2 separate regions of the Homo sapiens genome follow, and region 1 is linked to region 2. Evidence: fine-mapped expression QTL. A gene starts in region 2. The other region holds a variant in brackets. All regions are shown on one strand. Distances are from middle to middle.

Region 1 (2,916 bases), 80 kb before region 2:
AAGCCTCACAGTGACAAGAACAATCAAATGTTGAATTCGGGCACAGACAAAAGTAAATATGGATGTTTGTTGCTCTTGGTATATAAATAACAGGATTCTTTGCAGAAGGAGTTTGCTTCAGAAGTTATGCTGCCCTTGGGAGCTACTTCATAGCCTTATTTGGATTGCAAGCTTTTTTATACTTTCCTACAATAGCAAATGTATGCGATACTTTCTGGGGCAACAAAGAATTGTGTGCATGCCTGCTTTTGCTCTTGAGGCAGCCTTAGCAGGGAATAATAGTGTTGCTAAGTCATTTATCTGAAAATGTGAGGTACGGATGTCCTTTCTAGCCTTATGCTTTGTGGTGAACTCATCATACTATTAACAGAAGTATAGAATCCAGCATTTTACCTCCCCAACACATGTGGCCAAAACATTAGCATAGAAGGGAGTGGCATCGAACACATGAATGTTTTCTCATGTACTGAACACCAACAGATCTCCCCACATGCCAAGCCCGTGCAACAACAGTGATGTCTCCTTCCTATCCATGCCTACCATGGGCTAGCTCAATTCCCATCTTCTATCTCAGCGAGTACCTGGAAGGGAGTACTTTGCATAGTGGTATGCTGAAGCCAGCTCGCATAGAACAGTGATAGCTGATTGCAGCCTCTTGTTTCAGCCCCACTACCATGACTTTGTGACATTGCATTGGTAGCTTGAAATTGGCCATGGTATTTAGATTTTGAAAACTTGCCAAGGCTAAAATTCAAGGCTTTCCCCCTTGGAGTCTAGGTTGTTAAATATTTATCAGTTCACCACTAAATGTGTGGGAACTAAAATGAACATAGCAGCTTATAGAAATAAAATGTGTTCTATTTATGTCCTTGCCCCAGTAAGGACAAGAAATGCCTCTGTGACATCCACAGGCTCCCTTCTTTATAAATTGTCTACTTTGTCTTCTGCCTGGAGGCCATGTCTAAGGAAAAGAAAGGCAGCAAAGTTTTTACCAACAAAACAGGCTCTGGGGCTCAGGTTTCAGAGCCCACTGAGTGTAGTTCCAGGTCTGCTCTCCAAAGGGGACAGAACCCCTTGTGACTCCAGCCACAACACAGTCCCTGGAGGAATTATGCACTAATGTAATATTTGCTTGGCTCCTAGGAACTCTTACTGAGAAAGCAAGCAAGCATTCAATATGAGAACACAATCAAATAAGGAAGATTTCACTTAACACTACGTCCTACAAGATAACAAATCCAGGAAAAGTATTAATTGAAAGGGTAGCAAGTTATATAAGATGATGCAGAATGTAGCTGGGCTTTTTAATTTTACTATCTCTTTTCACTGCTAAACATCTGATAACACCATGTTTTAATAAAATTACTTTGTAGCATATTTACATTTGTCAGAACCTGTTTCTTATCATATCC[T/A]ATAGATAAGTGTTCCTCTGTTTGCATTATGGGAAACTTCTATTTGGCAAGGTGAACAGATGATCACGATCATCTTTTGAGAAGTATTCAGCTAATGTCTGCTTGTTGCCTCACACCTATGGGAAATCTAAAATTGTGATATTTCACAGAATTTAAGGGAGAGATTGTTAAAACACAGATTCCTGGCCACACCCCAGTGATTCAGAGTCAGTAGGTGAGGAGCCCATGAATTTGCATCTCTATCAAGCTCCCAGATGAAGGAAAGGGATCCTCACTTTGAGTAGCCCTGCCCTGAACAAAGTTACATCTTGAGTAGTTGGTGATGCCTGTGGTACAAGGTCGAAAAAGGAGGCTCTCCTGGTCCCATGCATGGGGCTTTTTTGAAACCCACAACGTTTACCCAAACCCAGCTACGAAATGACTCCCTGGAGGCAGGAAGAGAATGTTGCCTGGTCTCAGGAATGTTGGGTCATGGGGAACAAGTCCCTATAAGACACCAGCAGACTATTTTAAACTCTGTGTCTAGGGTTACATTCAAGTCGTAACATATACCAACCATCTCATTCTCTATTCAATATCCGCCTGTCAGCCATTTAGTCAAATAAAACCTTTTAGGAAAGAATACAGCTTTGAGCTGCAAAAAGCTGCTATCCTACTGGGAGGGGTCACCCTACGCTAATGTTTTCCAGGGCTTATATTGAAAGTGTGTAAATATTTGTAATTAAATTGAACCATGTAGCTGTCCTTCCCATGTGATGTTATTGGGTAGCTGTGACCACCAGAGTGTTATAGCAACATGAGACATATTTACTGAAAATCATAATGGCTTTCAATAACTGAAGTACTACTTTGTTTTGTGGGGGATGTCAAAAATTAGAGCCAAAAACAGAGACAGAAACTTAAAAAGCTCATTCCAGACTTTTAGGACAATGACAAAATAGTGAAAAAATCTTGAAACTTTATAATTTAGTTCTCCATGCTATTCATCAAGAGTTCCAGTATTGAGGGCTAAATGATCTACTTGATCAACAATTCATTCTGGTTAACAGCCAAAAAATGGCTCTTGTTTTCAATTCTTAGCAAAACTGTCTGATACAAATCTTCCGTTCTCCCATTTGGATAGGGACTCATAAAAGGTGTGAAGTGTCAACATTAATTCTACAAATCTACTGGGCTGCTCCTGACAGAATGGTCAGAAAAGATCCCAGAAGTTCTCAACAGAGAATTTCAAGTTTTTGATGGTTGAGAAAAAAAAAAAAAAATGTATATTTGAGTTTAGCTTCTTTTTGAAGTTCATCATCTATATCAATTCATCTGACATTTATCTTTTTTCTTTTCTTTTCTTTTTTTTTTTTTTTTTAGACAGAGTATTACTTTGTCACTCAGGCTGGAGTGCCGTGGTACGATCTCGGCTCACTGCAATCTCCACCTTCCAGGTTGCAGTGATTCTCGTGCCTCAGCCTCCTGAGTAGCTGGAACTACAGGCATGCATCACCATGCTCAG
Region 2 (2,916 bases):
CATAGAATTCTAGTGTAGGAGGGACTTCTAAAAAGCATCTTGTCCATCTATATCAGGTAAGAGAAAGAGTGTCTACAGCCTCCAAGCCCCAGAAGAGAAGCGGTTGCACTAGAAGATTTTTGTGAGTTACCTAAGACCCTGTGGCTATGTCTTGGTAGAACTCCGTAGAATGCCAGGTTTCCTGATTTTCCTAAAAGTGTGTTCAGTCTTTCAAGCTGTCATCAACTATTAACAATGACACTTTCCTCTGGCTTTGTGCCAACTTTTCTTTTTGTTTATTATTCTGGCCATAAAAAGACCACCATAAATAGCCTCAGCGTTTCAGGTTCCCTTAATTGATATCTAATGTTGACAAATTAACTCAGCCCGAGTTGAAAGCTCCATATACACACACATGGTTTCAAGAAGGGCGATCGCGCTTATCCTCCAAACTGAGCAGTGATGATCCCTGGACTTCTCAAGTTTACCCTCTAGGAGGCTGACATGGCACACAATTTTGACAAGAGTTTGGAACCAAGATCCTCTTCCACGCCCTGCTCACAAGGGTGCCCACAAGCAGAAGTTCTCTCTCTGTCTCTCCATTACAACCCACCAGGCGCGCGCGCACACACACACGCGCGCACACACACACACACACAAATAACAAAGGAAAACACAGCCTCATAAAGGCTCAGCTATTGCATCCTCCAGTCCACACCTGCCAAAAGACAAAAACCATGCGGGAATCCTGCTCTGGCAATATGTCCAACACTTCTCGGGAAAAGCAGCGCCGTGGCACCCCCAGGGCGTGCGCTGCTGTATACACACAAAGAACTGGTGCTGGGCTTGCGAGCAGTTCGGGGTACCAGCACGCTCTCAGGGCTGGAATCCGGGGTTCTCCTCCACGCCCTCCCGCCCAGCAAAATGGAACCATCCTTTATTTGGTTGGTAGAGAGCCCAGGCTGGATAGTAGCGCATGGGTTGAGGGTGGGCGGTCCCCTATCCCTACCCTCCAGGCAGCAGGTCCCTAGCCTTTGCATCTCCTAGGAGATGCAGGATCGCGCTGTCACAGTGGTCCTCTTCGCATCCTCTCCCGGCAAAGAGAGATGCTCCGGTTACCAGCGGCGCGCATCCCCGCAGGCGCCTCTCCTCTCGCCGATACCCACCCAGGCAGTCCCGACAGGCGCGCCTGCCTACCTGGTGGCCGGCTGTCAGCGAAGCGGCGGTGCCTCAGCCCCTTCTCAGCTGCTACAGCGCTCCCAGCGCCATGTTCCCGGTCTCCCCGGGCGCACGCTGGGGAACTACTACTGGCTGGGTAGGGGCAAGGGGGGCGGGGGCCAGCGGGAGGGGGTGAGAGGCAGAGCCACAGCTTTCTACTCTCCACCCAAACCTCCCCCAGCTACTGAGCATGCCCAGCTGCCCGGCTTCGCCCCTCGGAGGACTGTCCATGAGCGTACGCAGCTGCTCCGGGTTTTCGTGGCAGCCGGCGGGAGGCAGGCTGTAGCGGCGGCCGGGGGTGGAGGTGAGGGGGAGGGTCGGGGGGCGTGTCTACACTCAGGGTGCAGGAGCCAGGAGCCGGGAGCTGGAGCAGGCGACCAATCCAATCACGTTTACTCCCAGTCGTCCCCGGCGGGGGCAGCTCCTGCACGCCCTCTCCCCCAACACTCGGGATTTGCAGAAATGTTGTTCAGGACCATTGCAGGATTGAGTTTTGCTTAAGAGGCTAGCAGAGGTGGGGAGGAGGAGGGGCTGAGAAGCAGAACAGTGGGCTGGCCTCTTTGCCACCACCTGGACCGGTGATTCTCAAACTTTCATGTGCCTGTGAATTAAAATGCAGATTCAGATTCAATTGGCTGGGTCCTGAGATTCTGCAAGCCTAACAACCTCGCAGGTGATGCTGCTGCTGCTGGCCCTCCCACCACTCCGAGTAGCAAACATCTAGAGAACCCCTTATCTGTGACCTCTCAGTGGCCATCCTTCAATCCGCCAGCCTAGCAATGGTCTCTGGTGTCCACAGAGACTCCTCCAGCCTGGGGTTGCTGAGCCTTACCTGGAAGGAGTGTTTGTGGGGCTAGGCTGTGACCACCCAGCTTCTCCTTGGCTGCTGTCTGATTTCGAATTTAAGGCCCAGGGGAAGAAGGATTCCTGGACCTTTTCATGCTCACTTTGCTAGCTGGCTAGTAAGCCAGTTGCTGGATGAGCTGCCCCGGTCAAGTCTGAACCAGTCTGCCTTGGCTGTCCCCTTGCCTTTCCTGAGCTGGGACAAAAACTCAGACTGGGCATCAAAGTGTTTATTGTACATCTAATAGCAAGCTTGGGCTTGCCTAGTTAAGAAAGCCGACAGATTATGACAAACATAGAGCGCATTTTTGTACCAAGAGATGTCAGGCCTTTGTGTTCAGTGATGTTTGGGCTGAAGTTTGCAACGATATTTGTGGTTCAACTTAAACTTCCCAGTTGCCTACTGCCCTCCCAGACTCTTGAAGTCTCCAGCATTATCAAGACTCTAGTGAATGAAAGACATTCACGAAGTAGTCCTGAGTTTTCACCCTTGGAAATGAAGAAGCCACGCTCTTGTCTGTCTTCAGCTGCCACAAGAGTACCCTTATGAGCTAGTAGTGGATATGGAATCTGATCCCATAACTAGATAGCAGGTTACAAAATAAGGATTTGTATCTCTCCGTTCCTTATTATACTCAATGACCTTAGACAGTTTTCTAGCTAATAGTATAGTAGTTATCATTTCCCCTTGCTTGTTTTCCATTCACTTAGTACCTTTAATATTGTACTGGCCATATCAAAACAGAAACCACAGGATAAATGGATGATTACTTTTCTCCCTCAGTAGTCCCATGTCCTTGTGTATCATACTCATCTCTTCCTTCTCAAAGCTGCACACAGCCCTAACAACCTACCCACTGCCACCATCGTCACCCC

What was found. PIP is the estimated chance that this variant, and not a neighbour inherited with it, causes the effect. A credible set is the group of variants that fine-mapping cannot tell apart.
Region 1: its variant is the best candidate, but not a certain one, in a credible set for the expression of PAK5 in tibial artery (GTEx, PIP 0.52).

The regions. Positions count from the first base shown.
Region 1 is chr20:9,757,919-9,760,834 of GRCh38, forward strand. The region is part of intron 1 of PAK5 (p21 (RAC1) activated kinase 5); the gene reads right to left. Among named protein-coding and RNA genes, the nearest start is that of PAK5, 80 kb to the right of the region's middle. The variant T/A (reference allele first, on the strand shown) is at 1,413.
Region 2 is chr20:9,837,586-9,840,501 of GRCh38, forward strand. It overlaps PAK5 (p21 (RAC1) activated kinase 5), which reads right to left and starts at 1,491. Exons shown (of 10, transcript NM_177990.4): 1 at 1,177-1,491.